3 linked regions of the Homo sapiens genome follow. The protein of the gene in region 1 interacts with the protein of each later gene in a biochemical or structural test. Each region holds a gene or a part of one and is shown in the gene's direction. Other genes may lie near its edges.

Evidence for each region. Proteins that work in one complex are often made in the same cells at the same time.
Region 2: the proteins of FNBP1 (region 1) and ARHGAP17 form a complex in vitro, tested with the Homo sapiens proteins (one study listed by BioGRID).
Region 3: the proteins of FNBP1 (region 1) and TNKS2 interact in a biophysical measurement, tested with the Homo sapiens proteins (one study listed by IntAct).

The regions. Positions count from the first base shown.
Region 1 is NC_000009.12:130,040,178-130,047,374, reverse strand, and holds the start of FNBP1 (formin-binding protein 1), read left to right. Parts: upstream 1-4,185; 5' UTR 4,186-4,399; coding exon 4,400-4,423; intron 4,424-7,197. UniProt on the Homo sapiens protein: May act as a link between RND2 signaling and regulation of the actin cytoskeleton. Required to coordinate membrane tubulation with reorganization of the actin cytoskeleton during the late stage of clathrin-mediated endocytosis.
Region 2 is NC_000016.10:24,935,364-24,942,389, reverse strand, and holds part of ARHGAP17 (rho GTPase-activating protein 17), read left to right. Parts: intron 1-246; coding exon 247-403; intron 404-2,792; coding exon 2,793-3,026; intron 3,027-6,750; coding exon 6,751-6,920; intron 6,921-7,026. UniProt on the Homo sapiens protein: Rho GTPase-activating protein involved in the maintenance of tight junction by regulating the activity of CDC42, thereby playing a central role in apical polarity of epithelial cells.
Region 3 is NC_000010.11:91,857,406-91,864,431, forward strand, and holds part of TNKS2 (poly [ADP-ribose] polymerase tankyrase-2), read left to right. Parts: intron 1-19; coding exon 20-125; intron 126-2,056; coding exon 2,057-2,243; intron 2,244-4,593; coding exon 4,594-4,750; intron 4,751-5,531; coding exon 5,532-5,594; 3' UTR 5,595-7,026. UniProt on the Homo sapiens protein: Poly-ADP-ribosyltransferase involved in various processes such as Wnt signaling pathway, telomere length and vesicle trafficking.

The DNA.
Region 1 (7,197 bases):
CCAAAGTGCTGGGATTACAGGTGTGAACCACTGCGCCCAGCTGTTTTGTTTTTTACTTAATAATTCACATAGGGGACTTTTGTGACCAAACGTGTTGGGATTTCTTCCCACCACCAACCAAGTAATTAATTTTGTAGTGGACATCAGCTGAGTGTCCTTTAATTTAGTGTTCTTTTAATTTTTATTTTTTTTTAGAGACTGGGTCTTGCTGTCACCCTGGCCATAGTCTAATGGTGCAATCACGGCCCACTGCAGCCTCGCACTTCACCTGCCTCAGCCACCATATACCTGGAGATAGTGTCAGATATCACAAATTGAGGGCTTGGTCCTCAAGACTGCCCCCCACCCCAAGTAGGTGTCAATCTTAAGTTTTAGGTTATGTGATCTGTCTTTTTTGACGAACTGTTTATAAATCAGAAATCTCAAGTCCTCCTTTTTGGGTTTAATTTGTTACAGTGCCTCACAGAACCTAGGGAAACATGTTTATTATAAAGGATATAGATGAAGAGATATATGGAGTACGGGGGAAGGAGAGTGGAACTTCTGTGCCCTCTCTGGGCATGCCACCCTCTAGGAACTTTTTTTTTTTTTTTTTTTTTGAGATAAAGTCTCACTCTGTTGCCGGAGTACAGTGGCTGGAGTGTAGTGGCGCGATCTTAGCTCACCGCACCCTCCGCCTCCTGGGTTCAAGCGATTCTCTTGCCTCAGTCTCCCAAGCAGCTGGGATTACAGGCACCCATGACCACACTGGGCTAATTTTTTTTTTGGTGTTTTTTTTTTTTTTTTTTTTTTTTGTATTTTTAGTAGAGACAGGGCTTTCACTATGTTGGCTAGGCTGGTCTCAAACTCCTGACCTCGGATGATCTGCCTGCCTCTGCCTCCCAAAGTGCTGGGATTACAGGCGTGAGCCACCACGTCCGGCCAACTCTCTAGGGACTTTTATGTGTTTAGCTATCTGGAAGTTCTCAGAACTTTGTTTTTTGGAGTTTTAATAGAGGCTTTATTTTATGTAGTCATGATTGATTAAGCTATTGACCATTACTGAACAACTTAACTTTCAGCGCCTCTCCCCAGTCCCCGGAGGTTGGAGTGACAGTGTGGGTGCAGATAAAAGTCCCACACCTCTAATCTTGTCTTGGTCTTTATGGTGACCAGTCCCATCTTGAGGTACTAATACTTAGGGACTGTCAGCCATCAGTCATCTCATTAGTATATAAAAAGACATCATTTTGGGGTTTTTAAGGATTTTAGGAGCTATACTTCAGGAAACAAGGTTGACGACAAAATATATATTTTGTAATATCACACCAAGATCATAATTTTGTAAATCAGTGTTCCCTAGATTTTACTGAGAGGTGAAACCAGTATCTGCAACCCAGATTAACCCCCTAGATAATATCAGCGTTTACATAGAGTTTAGAGTACCCCTGGTGAAAACTGATTCCTAAGTAGGTCAGGTCACAGTAGTTTGTTAATGGGGATACTTCCTTGTCTTAGAATCACTTCCTCCTGCTCTGAAGGGAAACTGAAATGGATTTAGTTCTTCCTAAAAAATGCTGTGCTATATTTTAGCCTTTTTTCTGCTGGCTTATTTCATTTTATCTCATGGCTTCATGATCATTGGTGTCTCTCTCCTTTATTTTTTGAAGATTCTGACACTTTCAAGCATTTTCCAGTTACTGCCAAAGCTTAATGAAGTTAAAGATATTTGCAGTGTTGTATAATTAACTCACATCCATAGAGTTCTGCGGCAGCTTTTAATGGGTTCCTTCCTATAACTAACAATCTCCTGCTTACTCGTCTTAAAAAGTTTCATCTTCATGTGGTCTCTTTTTTTCTTCTGCTGTCCCTTCCTCTTCCTCTTTCTCCTCTTTAAAGCAGCAGGTTGTTTTACTTCTTGATTAGAGTATTTTCACAAGTGGTCACTGTTTTTGAGAAGTCTCCAATAACTTGGTCAAGATTAGATCATTGTATTTGACTAAAAAGTCAAGCCCTGGCAGGAAGGTGATTACTGAGGCAATGTCTTGTTAGATAAACCTGCATTGCATGTACCGTTTCCAAATTTTAGCAGACTAAACTGTGCAGCATTGTTTGAATTTCCCCCTCCAACTCACTCTGGCTATTAATCTGCCTTAGGAGATAGGTAGCTGGCCGTTCTCATTGTTATATATCTAGCAGTCTCTGGAGGAAAGAGAATTCAGACCTGGTAACTGAGAGCAAAATATTTATACAGACACAAGAATGGGGGTGGGCAGGAAGGGAGGGTTGTAACTGAAAAAAGGCAGACCAAAACAGTTTTGACAACTTAAATTTATTGTAACTGCCCAACAAAGGAAGTAGAGTTGGAGGTTTATCTGCAAGAGGTTTTTTTTTGTTTTGTTTTTTGTTTAGTAGCTCCACCTCTTAATTTATTATTATTATTCATTTTATTTTATTTTTTGAGACAGTCTCGCTCTGTCACCCAGGCTGGAGTGCAGTGGCACAATCTTGGCTCACTCCAACTTCTGCCTCCCGGGTTCAAGCGATTCTCTTGCCTCAGCCTCCTGAGTAGCTGGGATTACAGGCGCCCTGTCACCACGCCCAGCTAACTTTTGTGTTTTTAGTAGAGACGGGGTTTCTCCATGTTGGCCAGGCTGCTCTCAAACTCCTGACCTCAGATGATCCACTCACTTCTGCCTCCCAAAGTGTTGGGATTACAGGCGTGAGCCACCATGCCCGGCTTTAATTCATTATTGTTAATATTTTTGAGACAGGGTCTTGCTCTGTTGCTCAAGCTGGAGGGCAATGGCACCATCATGGCTCACTGCAACTTCAACCTTCTAGGCTCAAGCGATCCTCCTGTCTCAGTCTCCCAAGTAGCTGGGACCACAGGTGCATGCCACCATGCCCAGCTAACTTTTTTTTTTTTCTTTTTGTAGAGACAGGGTCTTGCGATGTTGCCCAGGCTGGTCTCAAATTCCTGGCCTCCAGCCATCCTCCCACCTGGGCCTCCTGATGTGCTGGGATTACAGGCGTGAGCCACCAGACCCGGGTTAGCTCCACCTTTTAATGGAGGAGAATGATAAGCAGGTTGAAAATGGTGGGGTGGGATTGGAGAAATGCATCATCGTAAAATATTTTTTAACTGGGGGCCCATGTTGGGAGTCGCACGGTTTCTCAGAAAAGGATCCAGTAGTAGCATTAACCGAGGGAGAAAGATAAGCTGTGGGGAAAGGGCTAGTGATTCAGGAGTTGGAATTCCAAACATTTTCCATAGCTTGTCAGGAACATTTGTGCAGACCTTTGGATATATAGAGAGGGAGTCCGTCTGCTGATAAAATGAGCGCTGGGTTTACCAACCTTCGGCCTTGGCCCACCCCTGATCCTCACCGCCGGGCAGTGAGATGGACACGTTATTTGCCTCCATTTGGTGGACTGCGCTCTGCGCTTCCAGAGGTGGAGCAATTGTCCGCCTCCGCCCGGCCAGCACGTGCGGGAGGCTGGATTTGAACCAAACAAGTTATCTGTGTACCCCACGCCTTTGCTTTTACCCACTAGGCGGTAACGTGATTTCACGCCTGAGAGTTTCTTGGCTGAACAAGTTGGAAATCACTGGTTTCAGAGATTGGAAATCACTGGGTGCACGCCCCTGGATTCTTTCCCTAGCCACTCGAGGCCGTCGCGCTTGCCTCGACGTCTCTATTCGCACAGCGCGCAGTTACCACCGCCCCACTCCCACCGCGCCAGCCTGCGGGACTCTCGGGCTTCCCTCGGGCGGTGGGAAAAGAGCCTCCCGGGCTGACTCTGCTCGGCGCGCATGGCTGCCAGGGGAAAGTATTGTCCTTAAATCCAGAGCGGCGATACGCGCAGGGGAGCGATCTCAGACCGCGGCGGAGCATCGGTGATCCCAGGGCCTGCCGCGTTCCAAGGCAAGCGCTAGTACTGCGAGCAGACAGTGGTCACTAAGAAGTCATTACCAGATTGGCAGGGGGAGTCCTAGGGATCCGGGTCCCGCCGTCCCTCACACCTCCCTCCGCGTCCTTCCGGACCCCAGGGCGACGCGGACCCGGCCGGGGGAGCCCGGGGGAGGGGGCCGGGCCGGGGTGGGGCGGGCGCGCGTGCGCGAGCTGTCAGACCGGCCCCGCCCCTCCCCTCCCGCCCCTCCCCCGCTCTCCGGGTGTAGGGCGGGCGGGCGCTGCGGCGGCCGCGGCTGCTGCTTCCTCGGGCCATTTTGCTGTGGAGCGGCGGGGAGGAGGAGCCGCCGAGGAGACCCCGGGCGAGGAGCTGCGAGCCGGAGGAGGCCGCGCGGACTCCGGGCTTTCCGCCGTCGCGGGGATCTCGGGGGGCAAAGGGATCGCCGGGGAGGGGGACCAGAGAGCCGCGCCCGCCGCGCGGAGCGCCCCTTCGCGTCCCCTGCACCATGAGCTGGGGCACCGAGCTCTGGGTGAGTGAGGGGCTGGGCCCGCGGGCAGATGCGGGGCGCGCGCTGCGTTTCCCCGCGGCCTGGGGAGGGGGCGCGGGCCGCGCTGCTGGGCGGAGGCGAGGGCGCGCTGGTCGGGGTCCTCGCGGCCTGGGGAGGAGGCGGGGTTCCAATGCCCCTCGTCCGCCTTGGCCCGAGCAGGAGGTGCGGGCCGGCTTGTCCTTCGGAGGCGAGGGGAGTTGGTGCGGGTCCCCGGCGGCCTGAGGAACGGCGCGGGCGGGCCTCCCTGTCCCCGGCGCCCCGGAGCGGGCCGTGTGTGTCGGGCCGAGCCCTAATCCCCCGGGGCGAGCCGCGGATGCCCGGGGAGGGCCGGGACCGGGCGTGGGGGCGTGGAGGCCCCGGCTGCGCGGCGCTGCGTTGGGTCTCGGGGCGCCCCGGCCGCGAGTTCTGTCCTGGCTCCGCGGAGGCGCTGGCGGATCGGGCACTTCCCCGGGAGCGGGGCGGCCGGGGCGAGCGCCGGGGGTCGGGTTTTGGGGTGCTGGGGCGAGAGTGCGGTCTTCGCTCTGGAGGCGAGGACTTCTGGCCCGTGGCGGCTCCGGGCGCACTTGTTCTTTCGGGGTAGCTCAATCCTGAGTGGGATGTGGGCACTGCGACGTCTGGTCTGGAGGGGAAAGTGGGAGTTAGGGAGAGATCTTACGTGATCTACCTCAGGAAGAGGCGTTCGCGGGGTCAATGATCTTTAACGGTTGCTCGGAGAATAGTTTCCAGTGGGGAAAGTTGGCGGTGAGGGGCGCCTTGCGGGGATGCTTGGCCGGGGGATGCGCACGGTAAACGGGCAGCCCTCAGGGCTGAGGGCCGTCCCCGGAAAGGCGAGGGGCTGGCTGTGGATGGAGCTCTTTTCCTGCCGTCCCCGGATTCCTGGGGAAATCACTGGGCAGGGGATGGGCAGTGCGGCGGCCCGGGAAGGAGCAGACGAAATCTCAGTTACTGCACTGAAATGCCCTCAAGATGAGCCATTTCCCAGGATGAACTCTAAAGTGCCTGAACTACCTTTTGGAATTCTATTTGCAAAGGGTGTGGAGGAGAAAGTGTAGGGTGGTGTTGCTATCTGAGATGAGGCCAAGAAATCTCATATCAAAATAAAACAAGGTTAGAGCAATTACAGAAACAGAGCACATCCTCCCTTGTTTTTTGTTTTGTTTTCTTTTGCTTTAATTGTTTTTACATAACCATTTGTTAGGTACAGAAGCAGCTACGGTTGTTATTACCAAAATCCTGAGGGCAATAGCTCCCTTAAATTAAGATAATTCATTTTATAAACATCTTCTGCCTAAAAGGGATTCATGACAAAATTTCCGCTGATGTTTACAAGTATCCATTTTGAAAATAAAATAGTTTAAAATATTTGCACACACCAGTTTAGGCAAAATCTATGACTTTGAGTACCGTATTGAAGTTTCTTTCCTCTTCTAATCCTTCCACTCCCTTTAGCTCTCTTTAGCTTATCTGGGGTGGGGAAGCAAATCAGAAGTAATCTTTGTCAAGACAGTAGAAATTGTGGCACAATTTTTTTTTCACTTGTTCAGACAGGTGGATGGAATTATGGAGGGAAAATGTACAATATATTTCTGAGTGAAATAGGGACCGAACACAATACCTTGGTGGACAGTTCAGTGATGTTGGTGAATGGGATAGAATATAATTCCAAAGAGAGGCAGTGGCTATGAGCAAAACTGCTAAAACAGCGGCAATTGCTTGCATTATTCTGTACATTTCTTTTTGAGGGTGCAGAAGTGGGAAGGAAGGCAGGGTTAGGAGTGATTGAAAATAAATGAGAGAGGCCGGGCGCAGTGGCTCAGGCCTATATTGCCAGCACCTTGGGAGGCTGAGTCGGGAGGATCTTTTGGGCCCAGGAGTTCAAGAACAGCTTGGGGAATATCTGGAGAGGCCTCCTCTTAAAAAAAAAAAAAAGAAAAGAAAAAAGAAAAAAGAAAAAAATAATAAATGGGAACTGGAATATATACAAATATTAATGATATGAAATCTTATATTTGCTTCACAATAATTTGGGTTGTTAGTAGATGGGAGATAGTGAGACAGAGTTGGCCATTATTGAAGCCAAATGCTGAGTACAGAAGTATTCATTACACTATTCTTTCTAGTATATATATTTGACATTTTCTACAATAAAAATAATTGGAAAATAGTTTTAAAGGAGAAGGATGTGAACTATTTGTAATTTTTTCACTTGACAATTTTATGAGGAAGAATGAATCAGTTAACAGTTCTATATATGCAAGTGTATGGCAATGAGGAGTTTTTAAAAAGACATTCTTTTTTTTTTTTTTTCTGAGACGGAGTCTTGCTCTGTTGCCTGCCCAGGCTGGCGTGCAGTGGCGTGATCTCGGCTCACTGCAGCCTCTGCCTCCCAGGTTCAAACGATTCTCCTGCCTCAGCCTCCCAAGTAGCTGGGACTACACGCGCCTGCCACCATGCCCAGCTAATTTTTTTGTGTATTTAGTAGAGACGGGGTTTCGCCGTGTTGGCCAGGCTGGTCTCAAACTCCTGATGTCAGGTAATCCGCCTGCCTCAGCCTCCCAAAGTGCTGGGATCGCAGGCGTGAGCCACCACGCTTGACGTTAAAAAAGACATTCTTATGAGTACCAGCATTTGCCTTTGAGTAGCTTACAGTTTAATATAGGAAAAGGAATGAACACATGATTGTGCTACTAAGAGAAATGCAAAATCTAAGTTTTCAGGTGAAATGCAAAGATGTATAAGGCTTAGTAGCTTTTGAG
Region 2 (7,026 bases), on another chromosome or scaffold:
GAGAAAGCACAAAAGTGTGTAACTTATATTCTGACCCATACTTCTTCCCCTGTCTTGTCCTCTTAACATTACTTCCCACTGGTTTGATGGACCATTCTTGCGATGTGAGTGCCTGGAGCTTCCACTTTGAAATAGTGAGGGCTGTGGACTGAAGAACGAGGTTCCCGTTCCAATGAGGGGTGTCTTAGAGCTCCCTCGCCTGCTGTGCTCAGTGTCTCATGCACTTGTTTATTTTTCCTCTTGCAGAGGTGGAATTTAATGTATCAGAAGCATTTGTACCTCTCACCACCCCGAGTTCTAATCACTCATTCCACACTGGAAACGACTCTGACTCGGGGACCCTGGAGAGGAAGCGGCCTGCTAGCATGGCGGTGATGGAAGGAGACTTGGTGAAGAAGGAAAGGTATGATTTGACCGTTCACTTCCAAACCAGCAGTAAATATGTTGTTAGACCCGTGGTATCTGGTATCGCTCAGTGGACTTGGGATTTGAGAGTGGTCGCCATCCACCCATGACTGATGGTGTCCAGATAGTTTCTGGAATTCTGCTGTAGGTCATTCCAAGCACTAATCTCACCATAAAGTCAGTGTGTAGCTTCTCAGTTAACGTTTCTTCCACGTGTATTCCAGCTTAACTTGGTGGTGTGCTTGGTAAGCCCTGCAGTGGAACGGCATCATACACATGTTAAAAGTGACCCAGATGTACGTGAGTGGGGGGAAACAGAAAGGAAAATAAATTCAATAGTGTGGACTTTTGTCCAGAATTGAGTGTGAGAACACCCACCTGGCACAGTGAGTTGAGTGATTTGGCGTTTAAGGAGACATATTTCTGGTATAATGTGGCCCCACAATGGAAGCCAACCACTGAATTTGATGTTCAGTGGGAAAAACCTCAGTATTTGCCAATTCTAGAAGAAAAAAAAATGGCAGTGTTGAACTTAGTGAGAAGCAGTGTGTCTCTATATACTCTTTTCTATGGGCAATTCATGGGATTTTCAAGGGTGATTAAGACTGTTTGTAATTTGTGCCTTTGGATGCCAACCTGTCCCATGTGTGTGATGAAATGCCACTGTACTCACTAGGAATGCTAACAGTTAAGAGGCCTGTTGGAAGTAATATGCTTTTCTTGGTATATTAAATAATACTACTAGAAATAGTTTTACATTAAAACGAAGTGACAAGCTCTTATTTTAATTGCTCAGTCTTATAGTGAGGTGTGCTGTTTGTTTCTTGTTCTTTGTATTGCATTTTTTACCCCTAGCAAAGGAGAATGCATTATTCTGTCCCTATTCTGTCCTTCCAAAATCCACATTTATTCTATGCAGACGTATTACCTCTCTGAACCCTCATTCATACATTCAGTAGTATTTCCTGATGACAGACTCTACCTGTAACAAAATTAGCTTTCATATATTTTAAGTTACAGAATACAGTGCATGAGTCTAGTTAGCACGTGACAGACAATTCTCAGTTACCTGCCTTGTGTATTCTCCCTGCCAGCTGACCCAGTAAGCACGAGCTCAAGAAGCCAGGTATCTTTTTACTTTTTGAACTGAAAGAAAAAGTTGTTAAGTTCATAGATCAGTCGCCTTAAGTGAAAAGTCAGCCTTCCTTCCACCCTCTCCAGCCACATCCAGCCACCATTCCCTTCCCCAAAGCAACGGCTTTTTCCAGTCTTTTTGGTTTTTGTTTTTTTGAGACAGGGTTATGTGCCCAGGCTAGAGTGCAGTGGTATGATCATGGCTCACAGCAGCCTTGACCTCCTGGGCTCAGGCAGCCCTCCCACCTCACACACCTGACTAGCTGGGACTATAGGCACGCACCACCTCACGCAGCTAATTTTCTAAAAAAATAGTTTTTTGTAGAGACAGGGCCTCACGATGTTTCCCAAGCTGGTCTTGAATTTCCAAGCTAAAGCGATCCTCCCACCTTGTCCTCCCAAAGTGCTAAGATTACAGGTGTGAGCTACCATGCCCAGCTTTTCCAGCCTTATGTACCTTTCACATGTAGTCTGCATATGCACATAGGATTGTTTCTACATCTCATCTCAGTTAAGAGGCAGTGTGGTGTGATAACCTTACACTGCCATTGGTAGGCCTTCTGGACTTGACTTCTGTGTCATTCCCCAAAAACAGATTTGAGATGGGAACTAGGAAGTATGGAAATAGGCCGGATGTGGTGACTTATGCCTGTAATCCCAGCACTTTGAGAGACCAAGGCAGGAGGAATACTTGAGGCCAGGAGTTTGACATCAGCCTGGGCAATGTAGTGAGACCGCATCTCTACAAAAAAAAATTTTTTTTTAGTATCCCAGTATGGTGATGTGTGCCAGTAGTCCAAGCTGCTCCAGAGGCTGAGGCTGGAGGATTGTTTGAGCCCAGGAGTTTGGCACTGTAGTGAGCTATGATTGCTCCACTGGAGTGCCAAGCACTCCAGCCTGGGTGGTGGAGTGAGACCACATGTCTAAAGGGGGAAAAAAACAGCAGAGGAAGTATGGGGATAAACACACTAACATGATGTCATTCAAGATGAGGCCTGCCTATTTGCTTTTAGCTGCTCACACCCAAATTGATCAAAGACATTGAACAGTACCAGGTTCATTGGCTTTGCTCAGGCTTGAAGCCGAGTGGAGTTGCTCAGGGGTGGCCATTAGTCTGGTCCTTGCCGCTTCACTGCATGCCGGGCAGCTTGGGTGGCTATCCCCATGTGTGGTTTTAACACATGTGGACCGATGGGCTTCTGTCTCAGTAGTCTGCTCGCATGGTGTGTTGACTGTTTCTTCTCTCTGTGTAGCTTTGGTGTGAAGCTTATGGACTTCCAGGCCCACCGGCGGGGTGGCACTCTAAATAGAAAGCACATATCCCCCGCTTTCCAGCCGCCACTTCCGCCCACAGATGGCAGCACCGTGGTGCCCGCTGGCCCAGAGCCCCCTCCCCAGAGCTCTAGGGCTGAAAGCAGCTCTGGGGGTGGGACTGTCCCCTCTTCCGCGGGCATACTGGAGCAGGGGCCGAGCCCAGGCGACGGCAGGTAAGGAGGCTGACTTCTGCTGGCAGTGGAGGCTGGACGCCCCAGCCTTCTTGCAGGTGGTGGCCTTTGAGCACGGCATCCATGCCCAAAGAACTGCTCCAGCATGGAGTGAACAGATTTACTTTCACTCCTCTGGTTGGCAAAAGATGGAAAAAAAGACTATGAATGGCTCGCTTCTTTTTATGTTTTCCAAAGAAAGCAACATTGGTTTGCATTCTTTGCCACACTGCTTTGGTGCTGGAAACCGGAAGCCAGTGGATGTCTCATAGTGTGATGAGCCTCTGTCACCTGTTGGATGTATACTGTCAGCATTCATGTACCTTCTGTTCATTGTCATCCAGTGTGCTAACCAGGAAGCATTTGAGTGTGGCAAGTTAGTTAAATTTTCGTATTCCTGGCATTTATTCACCCATTCGTTGATTGATTCAGTGAAACAGATTTACTGAGTCACTGATATGTGCTAGGCACATGAGGTGACTAAGACTCCACTCCACACCCCCAGATTTCAGTCTTGTAGGGCAGTTGATCCATGAGTCCAAGGTGGAAAATAAGATGGTAGCTTTTCTTTTTTCTTTTTTTTTTTTTTTTTTCTGAGACTGCGTCTTGCTCTGTTGCCCAGGCTGGAGTGCAGTGGCATAATCGTAGCTCACTGCACCCTCCGCCTCCTAGGCCCAAGCAATCCTCCTACCTAAGCCTCCCAAGTAGCTGGGATTACAGGTGCTTGTCACCATGCCCAGCTAATTTTTTTATTTTTGTAAAGATGGGGTAAACATAGATGCCCTAGGTTGCCCAGGCTGATCTCGAACTCCTGGCCTCAAGTGATCTTCCTGCCTCAGCCTTCCAAAATGCTGGGATTACAGGCATGAGCCACCATGCCTAGCTGGTAGATTTTCTTAAAAGGCTCTTTTAGTTGCTTAACCTTTGGATAAGCCACCTGGAGTGGGCTGCAAATGGATAGCAACTTTTAAGAAAAGTCACCTTGAACTTGAGGTTTTTTTTTTTGAGACAGTCCCACTCTGTCGCCTAGGCTGGAGTGCAGTGGTGCAATCTCGGTTCACTGCAACCTCCGTCTCCCGGGTTCAAGTGATTCTCTTGCCTCAGCCTCCGGAGTAGCTGGGATTACAGGCACACACCACCATGCCAGGCTAATTTTTTTGTATTTTTAGTAAAGACAGGGTTTCGCCATGTTGGTCAGGCTGGTCTCAAACTCCTGACCTCAGGTGATCCCCCTGCCTTGGCCTCCCAAAGGCTGGCATTACAGGTGTGAGCCACCGCGCCCAGCCATAACTTGAGATTTTTATTTAATTGACATTAATTCAGTTCTCCACACTGATCCAGGCAGATGACCACCAGAGGCTACTTCAGGTGGCATCTCTTGTGGTTTGGAACTGACAGCTGCTTAGCTTTGCATACATGTGTGCCAAAATTTTTGTTGTCATATGTTCTGCATTGGCCATCCACAACACACCGAATGATCATATATGAAGTAAAATAAATGTGCACAAAACAAGGACAGGCTGTTTATCCACACGTTTATTTCCCACACAGAGAGATGAATTTGCCTTGAAAGAACTCCTTTCTCATCGTCCTTGGGATGAGCAAGGGAGAGCCTTGTTGTGTGTGAAGCTGCTCGTGAGATAGGAATCTTGTTTCACCATTAAAACTGAATGCTGAATGCTTTGTGCATTCCTGAATTCCATTTTCTTCACCTTGGGAAAGTTTACTTTGGGGTTAAAAAAAATTAAGACTTCAGACTTCTTAGGGCTTCCCGTGCACCTCATAGGCTGCACGTTAGCTTGTCAATAATTGTGCCCTATGCATGTACTTGTTTTGGTTTAAATTTTTTTGTTTGAAGGAAAAAAGTCTAAGCAAATTCACTTATTTTCTTTTTCTTGGTTTTGTTTTTTATTTTTATTTATTTTTATTTATTAATTTATTTTTTGAGACGAAGTCTCGCTCTGTTGCCCAGGCTGGAGTGCAGTGGTGCAATGTTGGCTCACTGCAACCTCTGCCTCCTGGGTTCAAATGATTCTCCTGCCTCAGCCGCCGGAGTAGCTGGGATTACAGGCATGGACCACCATGCCTGGCTAATTTTTGTATTTTCAGTAGAGATGGGGTTTCACCATGTTTGCCAGGCTGGTCGCGATGTCCTGACCTCAAGTGATCCACCTGCCTTGGCCTCCCAAAGTGCTGGGATTACAGGCGTGAGCTACTGCCCCGGCCTGTTTTTTGTTGTTTTTTTTTTTTCAGACAGGGTCTTGCTCTGTCACCCACGCTGGAGGGCAGTGGTGTGATCATGGCTCACTACAGCCTTTTAATCTCCCAGGCTCAAGCGATCTTCCCACCTCAGCCTCCCAACTGGGACTATAGTAGTGCATCCCCATGCCCAGCTAATTTTTTTAAATTTTTGTAGAGACGAGGTCTCACTGTGTTGCCCAGGCTGGTCTTCAATCCTGGTCTCAAGCAGTCCTCCCTCCCTAACCTCCCAAAGTGCTGGGATTACAGGCATGAGCCACCATGCCCAGCCAATTTACATATTTTCATTTCCTTGTGACATTCCATTTGTTTAATCAAGGCTAAATGTATTATTTAAGACAATAATTAGTCTTAATGCAGAAGGACAAATGGAATGTCAGTTACTTTGCTTTTTTTTTTTTTGAGACAGCATCTCGCTCTGTCAGCCAGGCTGGAGTGCAGTGGCATGATCTTGACTCACGGCAACCTCCACCTCCTGGGTTCAAGCGATTCTCCCACCTCAGCCTCCAGAGTAGCTGGGACTACAGGCATGCGCCACCACGCCTGGCTAATATTTGTATTTTTAGTAGAGACGGGGTTTCACCTTGTTGGCCAGGCTGGTCTTGAACTCCTGACCTCAAGTGATCCATGTGCCTCAGCCTCCCAAAGTGCTGGCGTTACAGGCGTGAGTCACTGTGCCTGGCCTGCTGTTTGTTTTTTATACTGTATTCTGTAGGTATTTTTATGTACATTACACTAATGTTATTCACTCTTTGGTGACCTTGACAAAATGGAGCTACAGAGTTTGGTATAAAAAGTTCTGGGCCAGGAAACAGGAAGCCTGAATTCTGATCTCTATCCTGCTGCTACCAACTCTGGACTTCGAGTAGTCATTTAGCCTCTGAGTTCTCCTTCTTCAGTCCAAGTTATTGATAATAATCAAGCCCTTTATCATTTAGGGTCTTATTTTGCCATGGCTTTTGCTTAGTTTTGTACAGTGTATATGTCAACATGTAAAAGCCATTTCATGGTATTAAGTACTGCCCAATTTAAGTCCAAACGCAGTAGAACTGAAAACTCCGCATTGGTTGCTTTGAAATGGTCTCTCTGATGATACTGGAGTGGCAGAGTCGTTGGAGTCCAGTCTGATGCAACGAATCTCATAAAATAAATAGTCCTATAGTCCCGGCTACTCAGGGTGCTGAGGCAGGAGAGGATTGCTTGAGTCCAGAAATTTGAGACCAACCTGGGCAACATAGCAAGACCTCATCTCTTAAAAAAAAAATGGCACCAAGTAAACATTAGCTCTTTATATGGCACCAAGTAAACATTAGCTTTATAAGCCCAGTGTGAGCTAGTTAGAATTTCAGATCCTTTTCCTGCCTGCCGAAGTGAAAACTCTGCTTGGAATCTTATGTTTTATGTGCAGTATGTTCAGATTTTCTAGCTGGGATTGTCTGACGTCTAACTTGACTTTTACTCCTCTTAGTCCTCCCAAACCGAAGGACCCTGTATCTGCAGCTGTGCCAGCACCAGGGAGAAACAACAGTCAGATAGCATCTGGCCAAAATCAGCCCCAGGCAGCTGCTGGCTCCCACCAGCTCTCCATGGGCCAACCTCACAATGCTGCAGGGCCCAGCCCGCATACACTGCGCCGAGGTAAGCAGCCACCGTCCTCCTTGCCCTCAGGGAAGCCTGTGCAGACCTCCTTAAGTTAGTGCAAGGATTCAGATGGTGAGGTTTGTGGCCAGATCTTTTCTATGTC
Region 3 (7,026 bases), on another chromosome or scaffold:
TCTGGTTTATTTTTTATAGATTCAGAAGGTTTGTAACAAGAAACTATGGGAAAGATACACTCACCGGAGAAAAGAAGTTTCTGAAGAAAACCACAACCATGCCAATGAACGAATGCTATTTCATGGTAAGATTCCTCCCCACCAACTCTACCACTGTCTTCCACATTAGGATAGTTTTTTTGTTCAGATATGAAATAATAATAAGCCTGTATATTCTTTATGTCAGTATTTTAAGATAAACCTACTATTTCTGTAACTTTCACATTTATATTTTCAACTTCTTTTGAATTTGTGTATTTTATAATGGATTGTTTTTAAATAAGATTACCACAATAAAAATAGAAATGAGAGTGTTGACTATCTTTTCCTTTTTTCTTTAAATAGTAAATTTTGCTTATGGTCACTCTAGGAAATTTTGTGTTTTCCATTTAACTAGTTGATTGAATTAAAAATAAGACCTGGGAATCACCTCAGAAGAAGGTGTACATCCTATTCTGATTTTGATTCTAAGTATCAAACCCACACAATTTGAAAAGAGCCATTGTTATTGAACCTGTAGAGGTTTCTGATGACTGTAGAATTGAAACCATAGAATTGAATTGAAAGCACAATTACTTATTCTTCTTGGAATTTTCTACTTTTTTTGTATTATAAGCTGGCAGGTGTTGATTAGTCTTTCAAATTTTAGCAAAGTTAAACATATTAATGTAGTATTTATGAGGGCTTCAAGTACATTACCCATAGTAGTTCCAGTCTGTTTCTTCATTTGTCCTTGATTGCAGAAAAATTTTAGAGACCTGTAAAGTTCTCTAAAACACAGTAAATTTCATAATACCCTGGGAGAATGGCTGTAACAGAATGGATTCATGTGCAGAATCTAAACATGTTGCACTCCTTATTCCAAAACCCTAAATAATTATCATGATAATCTCTTGACACAGAGCATATTTATTTATCTGTTAATTGATGGTTATAATATGGTTTTTCTAATTTGTAATATAAATAATTTTGGTTTTCCCAAGTTAATTCAAAAAATGATTCTATTCATCTGTATTTCTGTAAAGTAGAATTCAGTATATTTTCCTGTCTGTCTGTGGAAAGGGAATGTGATCTTGATAAATGAATTAGCTGTGGTTTTTTGACTTTTTCCATCCCCCACTCTACTCCACTCCCAAGGAAAGAGGAGAGAGAAGTCAATGTGCAGGGGGTGAGGGAAAGCACCACATTTGCAGATAGAATCTTGTATCGTAATTAATGAAAGGCAGAAGTGGAAGGATAGAAGAGAAGAGGTATAAGAAAGAGAATAAGAATGTGAAAGTTGGGCCGGGTGCGGTGGCTCACGCCTGTAATCCCAACACTTTGGGAGGCCAAGGTGAGTGGATCACCTGAGGTCAGGAGTTTGAGACCAGCCTGACCAATATGTTGAAACCCTGTCTCTACTAAAAATACAAAAGTTAGCCAGGCATGGTGGTGTGCACCTATAGTCCCAGCTACTCAGGAGGCTGAGACAGGAGAATTGCTTGAACCCGGGAGGCAGAGGTTGCAGTGAGCCAAGATCATGCCACTGCACTCCAGCCTGGGCCACAGAGCGAGACTACATCTCAAAAAAATTTAAAAAAAAAAAGAATGTGAAAGTCTACTTGGGCCACTTGGTATCTTCAAAAAAGCACACAGGCATAGGCATCATTCTAAGACCTAATTGCATTTAGCTTTGCTATCTAAAGTGAATTATGAGCCTCTTGGTTTTAGATTTTTATGGATTTGCAGTCTGGCATTTGGTAACTCTTACACTGATATTTCAAGTACTCTGTTTTTCTAGTTCAATCTGTGTCCTTATTTTAGCACATAAACCAGCACTCTGTTAGAAACATTAGTTGATGTTAGCAGTTCTTTATTCTAAAATAGCTGGCTGACAGTTAACTTGTTACCCTTTTTCGTTTTGGCTTTATTATGGTTGGGCTATATATTTAAGAATTCAGTTTCTAAGAAACTAGTTTTTTACTTTTTATTCTAAGATAAATTTTAAATTATTGTTACCCATCTATATGTGTTTCAGGGTCTCCTTTTGTGAATGCAATTATCCACAAAGGCTTTGATGAAAGGCATGCGTACATAGGTGGTATGTTTGGAGCTGGCATTTATTTTGCTGAAAACTCTTCCAAAAGCAATCAATATGTATATGGAATTGGAGGAGGTACTGGGTGTCCAGTTCACAAAGACAGATCTTGTTACATTTGCCACAGGTAAGAGATCACTTGTTCTCATTTATTTTGGTGGTAATCAGATAAGAACTAGTTGCATTTTTGAGGGCAAAGCATTATGTTGGACAGTCTTAGGAATGCAAGCTAGGCATGTTTTAGATTGCTTTTGGCCCTCTCACCAATTGTAATAATAGCTAATATTTATTAAATGATCCGTATGGGCCAATTATAATTTAAGCACTTGACCTGTTTGGCTAATTTAATCATTAGAATATCTGGTGCCTTAAAGCATACTGAGTAGAAAGTAACATTAGGCATGAAAGAGGCTTTATTGTAGCCCTTGAGTATTGTAGGACTCTGTGGACTCTAAAAATCTAGTATTCAAATGCTAAAATGGCATTATTTGTCAAATCTAATTATTTGATGGCAGTGCCTGAGCCTCTCTTCCACTGTGATACGATCCTAATCCTCAATTTGCAATATTACTATAAGAACTTGAAATTAAAACATTGATCCTTTTTGAAAGGAAATAATAATCAAATAACTACTTTGCACTTTTTTTTTCCACTTTTAATTACCTGTTCTAACTCACTTGTTAAAAATCATTTAAGTAACTTGTCCCTAACTTATAAAATCCTTATAGGCAAAAAGTAATGCCACTTGAAAAATCCAGTAAGATTAATTCCTGAGATTTATTCGACAGTTAGGGCACTGCTTATTGAATATACAGAGCAGTAGTTTATCAAGCATTAGCATGCATTAGAGTCACCTAGATGGCTTGTTTAAATCACAGATTCTTAGGCTCCACCTTCTCAGTTGCTGATTTAGTAGATCTGGGATGAGACTCTAGAATTTGAGTTTCTACCAAGTTCCCAGATGTGACACTGTATTTCTGACCACTGATCTAGAAAAAAACCCCTAGAGCAGTACTTTGCACTTTGGCAGCACATTGGAATCACCCAGGGAATATTAAAAAACTATTAATGCCTGTGTCCCACCCTCACAGAATCTCTTTTAATTGGTCTGGGGCATGATCTGGATATTAGAATTTTTAAAAGCTTCCCAGTTGATTTCAAAGGGCTTCCGAGCTGAAGAATTGCAGTCATGGAGGGAAACAGGTTCTTTCTTTGTGTTTGTTTTGTTCTTACTGTTACCCCTCTAAATTTAGGCCTGCATAGGTAGTACACAGTAGGCCCTCCTATGTATGACGTCCCACTCACTTCTATTTTAGATCATAAATTGGAGTGGTTAGGAGGCATGTAATTTCCTGTAAATTGAACACTGCTGTTTTTATTTGTCATATATGGTCTGAAGGCTAAATAGTTCTGATTATTAGTAATAAGCAGCATTCTAATACCTCCCTCTTCTTTGGAAGATAGAACCATCAACTGGTCTACAGAAATCTCCTGTTATCTTCTAAAAAGAAACAATGACGTTAATACTAAAAGGTTGTTTGAAACTAAGAAAGGCTAGTCACATGCCTGAGAGGAGTGAGAGGGTAATCTACTGAAACTGGTGGTGAGGGGAGACTACCAGTTTACTTCCTATCTAAGGAAGTAACATTTCAGCTGAAGTCTGAAAATTGAGTGGGTATCAGCCAGTGGAAGAGTGGTAAAATAGATAACATTCCAATGGTGGAGAAAATTCTGTGGATGGGGACCATTAATAAAGCAAGTTTGGCCTTTGTGAAGAAAAGAAAACTAATGTGCATGGGGCATAATGAACATAAAATGAGATTCAAGAAATTGGAGCCATTGTACAGAATTTGGATTTTCTCCCAAGTACAGTGACAGCCTCTAAAAGGTTTTAAGCAGAAAAGTGACTTGATCTAATTTTTGTTTGTTTTAATTAGTTGGATGGGAAAGGTTTGGACAGGAATTACAGAAGAAACAGGAAGACTGGTTTAGAAAGCCATTGTGTGATAGTCCAGGTGAATATTTCAGTGATTTGACTTAATAGTGACAGTAGAATTAAGAAAAGTAAATGGATTTCAAATATATTTTGAAGGTAAAATCAACTGGAGTTAATTAGATATGTGTCCAACTTTGCAAGCCACTTAATGGAAGTCCACTAAACCTTCTCCTTCCCACTTGGCCAGTGACTTTTGTTTTTTGCTGAGATACAAACAAGGTGGTAGAGTCTGTATCTCTATAAGGTTATTACATTTTTCAGATTTTATAGTTAAAATAAGGACTAACTAAATTGACAAATTATTTCATTAATAAGAGTAATAGAAGACATTCTTAAAAAGTTCTTTTAGGGGTGAAATGATAAAAACAATTATAAGTATTTATGTATAAATAATTTTTTAAAACTTATGCCGTGTCCACACATTGTCATATTTATGTATCAAATTTGACTTCAGGGTGATCTTTTCCTTTTCGTTTTATAGGCAGCTGCTCTTTTGCCGGGTAACCTTGGGAAAGTCTTTCCTGCAGTTCAGTGCAATGAAAATGGCACATTCTCCTCCAGGTCATCACTCAGTCACTGGTAGGCCCAGTGTAAATGGCCTAGCATTAGCTGAATATGTTATTTACAGAGGAGAACAGGTAATGTAGTTTTATTTGTTCATCTTCAAAAATGCTAGGGAGGCATACTTTAACTTTTTATTAATCTCTTGAATTGACAAGACATATTGCCTTAACTGGATTTTTTAAAAATTTTATTTGGAGATAATTTCAGATTTGGAAAGTTACAAAAATAGTAAAGAGAATTTTCTTATAACCTTTACCTAGATTTCCTAAATGTTAATATTTTGTTCTCTTTTTTACTCTTACCATTCTCTCCTTCTTTCCTTGTGTGTGTACCTATTTTTTTGTGAACTGTTTGAGAGTAAGTTGCAGGGCATGTCCCTTTACCATTAACTATTTCAATTGTAAATTTCCTAAAAACAAGAAGATTTTATTCAAATTTCGCCAGTCGTTCCGGATTTTTCTTAGCTCTTATAAATAATTGAAATCTTGTATTTAACAGCCTGTCCATAGCAAAGAAGTATATAACTGTGTTTTGCTCTCAGTGAGAGCCAAAAGTAGTTCTAGAGCAGTGTTGTGAACTGGGAGTAGGTATCGGAATCACCGCAGTTACTAAAATCAGACATGATTTTAGTCTTATCTGATACTTATGAACTTAGTATTCATCTTAGACTTGCTGATTGAAAATCTGAAGAACTGTACTCAGGGTAAAGATGTTTTGAGAAAATGTCCCTAGATGATTCTGATCTACAACAGTAATTTAGAACCTCCTCCCTAAGATTAGGAATACTTCCGGAAAGTCTGTTTATCTTTCAAGAAAATTTTTGTACCATTATTTGAATTTATCTTTCTCTTCCAGGCTTATCCTGAGTATTTAATTACTTACCAGATTATGAGGCCTGAAGGTATGGTCGATGGATAAATAGTTATTTTAAGAAACTAATTCCACTGAACCTAAAATCATCAAAGCAGCAGTGGCCTCTACGTTTTACTCCTTTGCTGAAAAAAAATCATCTTGCCCACAGGCCTGTGGCAAAAGGATAAAAATGTGAACGAAGTTTAACATTCTGACTTGATAAAGCTTTAATAATGTACAGTGTTTTCTAAATATTTCCTGTTTTTTCAGCACTTTAACAGATGCCATTCCAGGTTAAACTGGGTTGTCTGTACTAAATTATAAACAGAGTTAACTTGAACCTTTTATATGTTATGCATTGATTCTAACAAACTGTAATGCCCTCAACAGAACTAATTTTACTAATACAATACTGTGTTCTTTAAAACACAGCATTTACACTGAATACAATTTCATTTGTAAAACTGTAAATAAGAGCTTTTGTACTAGCCCAGTATTTATTTACATTGCTTTGTAATATAAATCTGTTTTAGAACTGCAGCGGTTTACAAAATTTTTTCATATGTATTGTTCATCTATACTTCATCTTACATCGTCATGATTGAGTGATCTTTACATTTGATTCCAGAGGCTATGTTCAGTTGTTAGTTGGGAAAGATTGAGTTATCAGATTTAATTTGCCGATGGGAGCCTTTATCTGTCATTAGAAATCTTTCTCATTTAAGAACTTATGAATATGCTGAAGATTTAATTTGTGATACCTTTGTATGTATGAGACACATTCCAAAGAGCTCTAACTATGATAGGTCCTGATTACTAAAGAAGCTTCTTTACTGGCCTCAATTTCTAGCTTTCATGTTGGAAAATTTTCTGCAGTCCTTCTGTGAAAATTAGAGCAAAGTGCTCCTGTTTTTTAGAGAAACTAAATCTTGCTGTTGAACAATTATTGTGTTCTTTTCATGGAACATAAGTAGGATGTTACATTTCCAGGGTGGGAAGGGTAATCCTAAATCATTTCCCAATCTATTCTAATTACCTTAAATCTAAAGGGGAAAAAAAAAATCACAAACAGGACTGGGTAGTTTTTTATCCTAAGTATATTTTTTCCTGTTCTTTTTACTTGGTTTTATTGCTGTATTTATAGCCAATCTATACATCATGGGTAAACTTAACCCAGAACTATAAAATGTAGTTGTCTCAGTCCCCTCCAGGCCTCCTGAATGGGCAAGTGCAGTGAAACAGGTGCTTCTTGCTCCTGGGTTTTCTCTCCATGATGTTATGCCCAATTGGAAATATGCTGTCAGTTTGTGCACCATATGGTGACCACGCCTGTGCTCAGTTTGGCAGCTATAGAAGGAAATGCTGTCCCATAAAATGCCATTCCTATTTTCTAATATAAAACTCTTTTCCAGGAAGCATGCTTAAGCATCTTGTTACAGAGACATACATCCATTATGGCTTGGCAATCTCTTTTATTTGTTGACTCTAGCTCCCTTCA